Homo sapiens: one gene and its partners. The protein of the gene in region 1 interacts with the protein of each later gene in a pairwise test. Each region holds a gene or a part of one and is shown in the gene's direction. Other genes may lie near its edges.

What was found.
Region 2: the proteins of APIP (region 1) and CFAP206 interact in binary tests that used the Homo sapiens proteins (3 or more experiments, as listed by UniProt).
Region 3: the proteins of APIP (region 1) and SKP1 interact in binary tests that used the Homo sapiens proteins (3 or more experiments, as listed by UniProt).

Annotation. Positions count from the first base shown.
Region 1 is NC_000011.10:34,885,372-34,889,028, reverse strand, and holds part of APIP (methylthioribulose-1-phosphate dehydratase), read left to right. Parts: intron 1-159; coding exon 160-277; intron 278-600; coding exon 601-736; intron 737-3,657. UniProt on the Homo sapiens protein: Catalyzes the dehydration of methylthioribulose-1-phosphate (MTRu-1-P) into 2,3-diketo-5-methylthiopentyl-1-phosphate (DK-MTP-1-P).
Region 2 is NC_000006.12:87,414,344-87,418,000, forward strand, and holds part of CFAP206 (cilia- and flagella-associated protein 206), read left to right. Parts: intron 1-1,342; coding exon 1,343-1,531; intron 1,532-2,325; coding exon 2,326-2,484; intron 2,485-3,657. UniProt on the Homo sapiens protein: Essential for sperm motility and is involved in the regulation of the beating frequency of motile cilia on the epithelial cells of the respiratory tract. Required for the establishment of radial spokes in sperm flagella.
Region 3 is NC_000005.10:134,159,851-134,163,507, reverse strand, and holds part of SKP1 (S-phase kinase-associated protein 1), read left to right. Parts: intron 1-2,377; coding exon 2,378-2,521; intron 2,522-3,657. UniProt on the Homo sapiens protein: Essential component of the SCF (SKP1-CUL1-F-box protein) ubiquitin ligase complex, which mediates the ubiquitination of proteins involved in cell cycle progression, signal transduction and transcription.

The DNA of each region.
Region 1 (3,657 bases):
ATTAGCACTCTATGTATATGTATACTAAATATACACACAAGTATGTATACTATAGATAAACTTTCTTGTATTCTTATGTATATGTACACAAGAAAAGGAACATTTCTAATTGATATTTTACAAGCCTTCTTTTTTTCTTTTTTTCCCCTCTATAAATAGCCTGAAGACATGTTTGTTTGTGATATAAATGAAAAGGACATAAGTGGACCTTCGCCATCGAAGAAGCTAAAAAAAAGCCAGTGTACTCCTCTTTTCATGAATGCTTACACAATGAGAGGTATGCAGAAAATATATTCAACATAAAGAATATTTGCAGAGTAGGCTCCTCTAAATAATGGTAATTATTATTTCAGTTAACATTTCTTGGATACCCACCATGTGCAAGAACTTGAAGTGCATGAACTTACTCAGTTCTCACATCAACCTATGAGGAAGGTCCATTATTCCACTTACCCTCCTGCCTACTACCAACTTATTCCATGCCAGGAAAAATAAGCCCATAACCATATGTAAATATAAGTATAACTATATGGACTTTTTTTCTTTAAAAGCTATAATTCAGTCTTCATTGAGCATGCGGCTTTCTTCTTCCTCCTTCAGGAGCAGGTGCAGTGATTCATACCCACTCTAAAGCTGCTGTGATGGCCACACTTCTCTTTCCAGGACGGGAGTTTAAAATTACACATCAAGAGATGATAAAAGGAATAAAGAAATGTACTTCCGGAGGGTATTATAGGTATTTTTTTTTCCTTTTTCTTAAATAATTTGAAAAGAATTCTTCCTTCTCTTTGATAAATAGAATACTGATCATTTTATGCATATAATGAGATGTCGTGGGATCTGTGTTAAATAATACTCCATTTAATATTACACTTCTAGACCTATTCTCATGACACGAATGGGATGTCTTCCCTCCTCTCCCGCCCCTACCCCAGCCATGGTAAATTATTAGTAATATGAATAATGAAATGTTTGTTTAAACTGAAAAAAATCTTGACTGAGATCTCTATCATGATGGAAAGATTATGTTCCTGTATTGAGGCAGCCAAAGATATCTTCAACTTCACTTTGTCTTCAGAAATTTGACCAGTGACTACAGTTTATACTTCATGGTGATTTAATTTAGTATTTCTGGAATATTTTCATATTTATGTAAGTTTTTTTAATAAAGTAGATCTCTATATTTTTAGAATTTTTCAGTGTTTAAGGTGAAATGGATAGTAAGTATAGATTACCATTCTAGATCAGTTTAAATAAATTCATCAGTCCACAAAAGTGTAGTAATTCTTCATAATTCTAGAATATAACGGCAGGAAGAAACATGTTCTCAGTGTTCAGGGACAAGCTAAGCATTTCATTTGAGTTTATTAGCATTCTCATTCCTGAACCTTCACTCTTAATTTCCTAAAGGGCTTGATTCTACCTTGCCTTGTTTAGAGGAAAACGGTGCCAGTTTTACTAAAGTGTTATTACCACAATATCATATTCTTACTGCATGTAATGGAATGTGCATGTTTAAACTAGTGCACTGAGAAATTGATTTGATTTCAGTTAATATTTATTGTGTGCTTAAAGCATTCCTCAGGACTGTGAAACACCTGTTTACAAAAGTTAAATATTTAAATTAAGAGAAGTGTACATACTGAGGAAAGTAGAGCCCCAGATTGCCTCTTCCATATCTGGGGCTGAAGGAGAGGCCTTATGGGTACTATCAGTTTCATATGAATGTTATTGTTTTGGTGAGGAAATAAAAATAGGTCAGAAGAATCAGTTTTTCTGAAAAGAGTTTGGAAAAAGTAAGGTAGAGGAACAGGGCATAAGAGAGAGTCTTTGCAATTTTGTGGAGAGGCCAAGCATGGTGGCCCTTTGCAATTCTGTTGGAGTCTAGCTGGGAAATGAGTAATAGAGTCATTAACACAGCTCAGGAGGCAGTGTTATTTTATCTGAATTTGAAGAGAATCCTGAGTCTAATCAAAAGAAAGGCAATGAAAGCTGGATGAGGTAAGAAAGGATGGAGTTTAAAATTCTCTACTGTATTTTTTTAAGTTTATCTTTTATATAAAGAACAGCTTTAAAATACAGTCACTTGTCACTGTGGATGGGGATATGTTCTGCGAAATGTGTCACTAGGTGATTTCATCATTGTGTGAACAGCAGAGTGCATACACAAACCTAAATGGTATAGCCTACTGCACACCCAGGGTATATGGTATAGCCTAATGCTCCTAGGCTACAAGCCTGCATAGCAGGTTACTGTACAAAGTACTGTAGGCAATTGCAACACAATGGTAGGTATTTGTGTATCTAAACATAGAAAAGGTTTGGTAAAAAAAAAATATGATGTAAAAGGTAAAAAGTGGCACACCTGTCTAAGGCCCTGACCATGAACGGAGCTTGCAGAACTGGAAGTTGTTCTGGGTGAATAAGTGAGTGAGTGGTGAGTAAATGTGAAGGCCTAGGACATTACACTACTATAGACTTTATAAGCATTGTATGTTTAGGCTACACGAAATTTATTGAAAACATTTCTTAATAATAACCTCAGCTTACTGTAACTTTTTTAGTTTATCAAGCTTTTACTTTTTTTTTTTAACTTTTGGACTCTTGTAATAGTACCTTAAAACACACATTGTACAGCTATACAAAAATATTTTCTTTATATCTTTATTCTATAAGCTTTTTTCTATTTTAATTTTTTTTAACTTTTTAAATTTTTTTTGTTAAAATCTGAGACACAAACACATATATTAGCCTAGGAGTACACAGGGTCAGGGTCATCAATATCACTGCCTTCCACCTCCACACCTTGTCTCAGTGGAAGGTCTTCAGGGGCAAGTAACATGCATGGAGCTGTCATCTCCTGTGATAACTAACAGTGCCTTCTTCCGGAATACCTCCTGAAGGACCTGCCCGAGGCTGCTTTACAGTTAACTTTTTAAAAACCATATAAGTAGAAGGAGTACACCCTAAAATAGTGTTTTAAAATTATAGAGTAATAAATACATAAACTACTAACATAGTCATTATCATCACGTATTACATACTGTAATAATTGTATGTGCTGTACTTTTATACAGCTAGCAGCACAGTAGGTTTGTTTACACCAGCATCACCACAGACATTTGCATAATATGTTGTGCTGTGACCCTATGACAGCTATGCGGTCATTAGGCGATAGGAGTTGTTGAGAGCCAAAAAGGCCAAAGGGATCGTGATCAACTCAGCATTCCACTGGAGGCTATATGATCAAACAGCAAACTGTTTATCATGAATGCAGGATGTGAGCAAACTCACACTGCGCCTGCCACCAAAAGGTTTGCTGAGGGACATCACTCCCTGGCACCGGGCTCCTTGAAGTTATCCATTGAGAAATCTAGAGCCTATTGTTCAAAGGATGCAGTCTTGCAAGCCTGCTGTGAACCAAAGTGGCCGACTGACAATTGCCCGACAATTGCCCCCCATTTCTCGTTATCTCTTTTACCAATAAATACGGAGGGCTGTGTACAGCTCGGGGCCCTTGTCCACTAGAGGCAAGGTGCCCCCGACCTCTTCTTCCAAACGTACTCTCTTGTTTTTATCTTTTATTCCCACGTTCGCCCCCTTTGTTCAGTCCACCAGGTCTGTGCAGGTATAATGGAGTTTTTCAGCTCCATTATA
Region 2 (3,657 bases), on another chromosome or scaffold:
AGGAGTGCAGTGGCACGATCCACAGATCACTGCAACCTCTGACTCCCATGTTGAAGCAATTCTCCCACCTCAGCCACCCGAGTAGCTGGGACTATAGGTGTGTGCCACCATGCCCAGCTAATTTTTGTATTCTTAGTAGAGACGGGATTTCACCATGTTGCCCAGGCTGGTGTCGAAATCCAGGCCTCAAGCGATCTGTCTACGCCTTAGACTCCCAAAGTGCTGGGATTATCAGTGTGAGCCACCATGCCTGGCTCATTATGTAAATAATTTAATGCATACATCAAAGACAAGTTGGAAACAAAAGAAAAAGGAAAATGTAATTCTCTATGGACTGCCTCTGCACCTGCTATATAAAACAAGTCTATTTCTCTATGGACTACCTCTACCTCTACTGTATAGTACAATCATTATTAACAATTTGGTGATGTTTCTCTTTGTTAGTTTCAGTTATGCTACCTATGTAAAAGTATATATCTTGCGTTTTTGCTTAATAGTGAAATTTTAAAGCAAGAAATAGTCATATAATTGATAAAATTTAACCTATAGATTTTTAAATTTGTTATTTAAACATATTTTTAATTTGCAAAAAGTTCTCAGTTGGTTTTGTGGCAAGGGTATAGGTATAAACTGTGCGTGGTGGATATGTTAATTATTGACCTTGTAATAGTAATATGGGTTGTCTTATAGAGTCATTGCAGAATTGTACTTGCAACAACTCAGGGAACATAGTGTCCTGCCAAAGTGAAGCCTGTCCCTCAGCATATCACAGGAGGAATGAGGAGGGATACAGTTCTCGATGCAACATCGTATTATCAATAATGCTTTTCAGAGGAAATTTATCTAGAACTGAAATAAAAATACACGTAACCGAAAGGAACATATATACTACATATATATTTCTGCTACTATATATGCTTATGTATAGTATACTACATGTGCTTACATATAGCATAAATATATAATATGTATATATTTATTTTTTCATATAGTATTAAAATTAAAATATATAATATATATTTTGTAGAAATGGTCTTCTTTATTTTCTGCTTAATTGGGAGGTTTTAGCCTTTTCTGATATCTCCTGTTTAGTTTGGCTGTTTAAAGTCTTAGGTGTTTTGACAAAGTATTCCATTTAAGTCACTGTAATAAATCTTCCCTCCTGGATTTTTGTCTTGAGGCTACATGCTGGCCACTGTTTTTTATTTCATTATTACAGCTTAAGAAATTACTTGTTTTCCTGAAGTAGAATTGCCATATCCAATCCAGTTTTTCTCTAGTTCTTACGTAAGAAGAATTCTAAAAATTAAATATATAGAACATTGTTATTTGGCAATTTTAGTGGAATTTCTCGAAGAACATCACCGGGTCCTAGAGTCTAGATTAGGCTCTGTTACCCGAGAAATTACAGATAACAGAGCATGTGCTAAAGAAGAATTGGAAAGCCTCTACCGGAAGATTATCAGCTATGTGTTACTCCGCTCTGGCCTTGGATCCCCTACAGACATCAAGACTGTCAGAGAGGTAACAGGTAAAAAGTATAACCAATTTCCATTTCATAAGTGAAAATATATGGTCATTGTATTTTATAAAACATGTTAAATTAGAAGTGTTAAAGATTGAAGTTCCCTTTTTATCTGAAAAAAAAAAAAAAATCAGCACAAATGAGTTAAAATGTACCCAGTCTCCTTTTACACTGTGTATCCATTCTAAAACTCAAGTAGCACCTCTAGAAAGTGAAATATTGCTAATTTTCCTAGAGCTGTACATATCTAGGCACCTATTACACCCCATTAGAGAAACATTGATAGTAGGATTGAGGGTACCAGGCTGATTGAGTAAATGGAAAAGCTGAAAACGGATATTTCATATTGATGAAAGAAATTGAGTCTGTCATTTAAAATGGGTGATGGAATGGGGCACCATTTTATCCTTAGGAAGTCTTTGCCCTCTTTCATCCTTTAAAATGAGGAATAGGAAAAATGTCTAGCTCTCCTATGGCTTTCTTCCATAATTATTTTAAAGCATCCATTTTTTGGCTCAGATCCCTAATTAGAAAGCTTGTTTTCATGCCCATTGCCAAAAAGTTACTGCTGGATGCTTAATTATTAAAAATGGACATGAGGCAATGGCATAACTCTCAGTAATCCAGCTTTGATGCGTGATAAGTTTTATTATGTATCCTATAATCAGGTATCAGTAATTTAAAGAATCATATAAGTAACTCAGACCCTTAACTTGCTGCTAAAGAAAAACGTTATTTAACGTCTGATATCTTTATTCTATCATTTTGTTTTCCTTTTTTTTTTTTCTGGTTTATTTTAGCTGCTCTACAGAGTGTTTTTCCTCAGGCAGAGCTTGGGACATTTCTAACTCTTTCTAAGAAGGACAAAGAACGCCAGCTGAAAGAACTCACCATGATTGTTACTGGAATTCGTTTATTTAACAGAGACTGTGGAAAAGGAGGAGAAGGCATTGATGATTGTAGGTATATCATTAGATTAATTCTAAAGGTTATGTATGTTTAAAATTTAACTTGCACAGTGAGGAAAATAATAAACAACACACCACTGGCATTCTTAAATTTAAGATTTGCATTTTTTACTGTTTCCTTAAGAATAACTACTGTTTATAATGTGTAGTGATTTTTACTTTTGCTGGGGCAAGACTTTACATTTTATGTACCATGAAGCTAGTAGGAGAAAGTGAATCAGTGAAAGCAATGAAGGGTCCTGCTCAAAGCTAACCTCCCAGTTCAGCAGGGCTTTGTGTTCATTACTGCAAGTCCGTAACCAAAAGGGAGTACAATTTAGTTATTTAAAAAATAAAAATCTTCCTGAAAACAGTTCCTGGTGCAGTTAATGGAATGAAAAGATCCACGAGGAGATATTTCAAATCTCTAAATTCGGGGGCATTTACTTTGTGGTTATATACTTAATGCATTCTTTATAAGTTTGAAAGTACTTATGAAATATTTAATGAAGTACCTACCAGTAGAAGTAACTTCCTTATGAAATTTGGTACTCCTGTAGGCCCACTGATAAGGTGTTAGTGTCTTTCACCAAATCACTAATCTAGTATAAAAGGGTAATTTTTTCTATTTTAAAAACTGTTCTAAAAAGTCAAATTTCCATTTTCATAAATGACCCTCCCTTGCTAGACTATTCTGTCATTTTTCACCATCCAGATGAGTTTCTTAACAAACGTTCCTTTTTTTTTTTTTTTTAATAACTAGAAAAGAAGATATACAAAAGGAAGGGTCAGTGGCTTTTCTGGAAGCACATGGTTAACAACACATAATACCAAACTCTGCCTATTCTCTGAACTCTTCTATATTTAGTGGCAAAAGCTGACCTACTGTAACTGGGTTATCATTCTGTTAATATCTTTTGTTTGAACTTGTTTTAGATTCTTTTTTTTTTTTTTTTTGAGATGGAGTTTCGTTCTTGTCGCCCAGATTGGAGTGCAGTGGCGCGATCTCGGCTTACTGCAACCTCCGCCTCCCGGGTTCAAGTGATTCTCCTGTGCTGGGATTACAGGCATGCGCCACCACGCTCAGCTAATTTTTGTGTTTTTAGTAGAGACGGGGTTTCACCATGTTGGCCAGGATGGTCTCAATCTCTTGACCTCGTGATCCGCCCGCCTCGGCCTCCCAAA
Region 3 (3,657 bases), on another chromosome or scaffold:
GAGAAGTTTTTTTTTTTTTTAAGCCTGTTTGTATTGAATATATATCATATTTTGAAGAATAATTACATGATGCCAAAACTATGGAAGTACAATAAAATCTCCTTTCCCTGTCTCTTATCTGATTGGAAACTGCTCCCCCCACAAAGTAATGTGGCATTTTTTTGTTTTTCTTTTTTACTGGCACCACCCGTTGTGAACCTAGGCATTAGTTTCTTTATATATCCTTTTAAGAGTTTTTTATTTTTAAATTTTTATTTTTTGTTAGTAGTGATAGTGATTTTTTTTTTTTTTTTTTGACAGAATCGCACTCTCTTGCTCAGGCTGGAGTGCAGTGGCACGATCATGGCTCACTACAGCCTCAGCCTCCTGGGCTCAAGTGATTCTCTTGCCTCAGCCTTCTGAGTAGCTGGGACCATAGGTGTGCACCACCAGTCCCATCTCATTTTTGTATTTTTCATAGAGACAGGGTTTCACCATGTTACCCAGGCTGGTCTCAAACTTCTGGGCTCAAGTAAGTCACCCACCTTGGCCTCCCAAAGTGCTAGGATTACAGGTGTGAGCCACAGTGCCCAGCCTATTATTATTATCATCATTTTTTGTAGAGACGGGGTGTCTCTATATTGCCCAGGCTATTCTTGAACTTCCGGCCTTAAGCAGTCCTGCCTCAGCCTCCCAAAGTGCTGAGATTACAAGTATGAACCACTGTGCCCAGGTTTAGAGTTTAAAAAATGCCTGGATAAGCAAATATTGACGTTTTTAAATTTTCTTATATAGTTGGAATACTTCCTAAAAAGCTATTATTTATTTCATTAAAAACCCTTAGCTGGGTGCAGTGGCTCACGCCTGTAATCCCAGCACTTTGGGAAGCCAAGGGGGGTGGATCATCTGAGGTCAGGAGTTCGAGACCAGCCTGGCCAACTAAAAATAAAAAAAAATTAGCTGGGTGTTGTGGCAGGCACCTATAATCCCAGCTACTCAGGAGGCTGAGGCAGGAGAATCGCTTGAACCCAGGAGGTGGAGGTTGCAGTGAGCCAAGATAGCGCCATTGCACTCCAGCCTGGGCAACAAGAGTGAAACTCAGTCTCAAAATTAAAACGAAAACAAAAACCTTTCGCTGGCCAGGCACAGTGGCTCATAGCTGTAATCCCAACACTTTGGGAGGGCAAGGTGGGTGAATTGCTTGAGTTCAGGAGTTTGCAACATGATGAAACCTTATCTCTACAAAAACAAAATACAAAAATGAGCCAGGTGTGGTGGCATGCACCTGTAGTTGCAGCTACTTGGGAGGCTGAGGTGGGAGGATCGCTTAAGCACAGGAGGTCGAGTGAGCCATGATCGCGGCACTGCATTCCAGCCTGGGTGACACAGTGAGATCTTGTCTCAAAAACAAACAAACAACCCTTTGCTTGGCTTTTCCTTATTGAAATTGTTCTTTCTTTTTTTTTTTTTGGATCCTGGCAATGTTTCTTGGCTCTGCCATTTTCTCTCAGCATTGTTTACTCCTCCAACATTTTGCTATGAAAAAGTTTTAGCCATACAGAAAAATGGAAAGAATTACACAGTAGACAACCATGTAGCCACTGCCTAGATTCTACAACTGAAAACACTTTCAGTATTGATTTTGGTCTTTATGCTGGTATGTATAGTCTAAGTAATCAGCTTCCTGAAACTTTATGGAGTAATTATTCTCCTATTAAGGAAATTTTGGGGCTTTTCCTGCTTTGTTCCTACACCAAATAGTCTCACACATGTGTCTAGGGTATTTGGAATTTGCTGGTTACAATATATGTACATATTCAGCTTTTCTGAGGAGTGCTGGATTAGCTTTCAAAGGGGTTATACCAATTTATACTCTCTAGAAGAGTTTGTGTTTCCTTTCCACTATTGCCCAACAATTAGTATCAGTTTCTTGATTTTTTTTCAATCTAGAGAAGTATCTGTAGTGTTAGTTTTGCTTCTAGTAAAGTTGAGCGTTCCTTATGTTTGGCTATTCAGATTTCATTTATTGGCTGTACATATTAACCCATTTCTCTTTAATGATTTTTGAAAGATTTTATATTCTCTCAGCTAATCATTGTTGTACATATTGCAGGTATCTTCCAGTCATTGTCCTAACTTTTCTTTTTGCATAGAAGCTTTTTAATGTAGTCAAGTACAGTACTCTGTCTGCATGGCTTGCTTTTATCTAATAAGATCTTCTCCCTTCTAGGGTTATAATGATTCTTCAAGCTTCATTTTTGTTTTTCAAGCTTGGCTGTTAATGGCTCAAGTCAACCTCTAGCTAGTTATTATTCCAATATAGGGATAAGTTGTCCCAGCAGTGGAATGAGTACCTTGTGACAAAGTGCCACAGAGGAATGAACTTTTGTTGTTGTAGGTCATTCAGTGGTGCACCCACCACAAGGATGACCCTCCTCCTCCTGAAGATGATGAGAACAAAGAAAAGCGAACAGATGATATCCCTGTTTGGGACCAAGAATTCCTGAAAGTTGACCAAGGAACACTTTTTGAACTCATTCTGGTAAGTTTTTAATGTGTAAGATAGCTCTACTCTAGAGCCTTTAAACACTTCTTATAGATTTAAATTTGCTAACTTCATTGACACTGAATTTTAATACTCTCTAAATTCAAATGTAACGCCATATTTAAATCCACATATCAGTAACACACTAAATGTAAATGGTCTAAACACAGTTAAAAGGCAGAAATTACCAGATCAGAAAAGCAAGCTTAGCTGTGCTGTCTGTAAGAAACCCGCTTTAAATATATAGACAGAACTAGGTTTAAAGAATGGAAGAAGATACGGTACACTAACACGAATCAAAAGAAAGCTGGAGTGACTATATTAAAATAGGTTTGGAGGCAAAGAATATTACCAGGGTTAAAGAGGATTATTTCATACTGATAAGGGGATCAGTTTTTTAAAAAGACATAACAATTATAAATTTTTATCTGGCTAGAAGCAGAACTTCCAAGAAGTGAAACAAAACCCAATAGAACTCAAAGAAGTCCACAAAGTGACAATCATAGAGATTTCAGCACCTCTCTCAATTAATATAACTAGACAGAAATCAGGATAACTTGATATAACACTATTGACCAAATTGTCTTAATGGATATTTATAAAATATTATATATATATATATTTTTGAGACAGAGTTTCACTCTTGTCACACAGGCTGTGGTGCAGTGGCATGATTTTGGCTCACTGCAACCTCCACCTCCCAGGTTCAAGCAATTCTCCTGCCTCAGCCTCCTGAGTAGCTGAGATTACAGGCATGAGCCACCATGCTCAGCTAAGTTTTTGTATTTTTAGTAGAGATGGGGTTTCACCATGTTGGCCAGGATGGTCTTGAACTCCTGACCTCAGGTGATCCACCTACCTAGGCCTCCCAAAGTGTTGGGATTACAGGTGTGAGCCACCGCGCCTGGCCTAAAACATTATATGTAATGATAGCAGAATACATATTCTTTTCAAGTGTATATTACCAAATAGACCATGTTCTGGGCCATAAAACAAGTCTCAGCTGGGTGCGGTGGCTCACGCCTGTGATCCCAACACTTTGGGAGGGTGAGGCGGGTGGATCACTTGAGGCTAGGAGTTCAAGACCAGCCTGGCCAGCATGATGAAACCCCATCTCTACTAAAAATACGAAA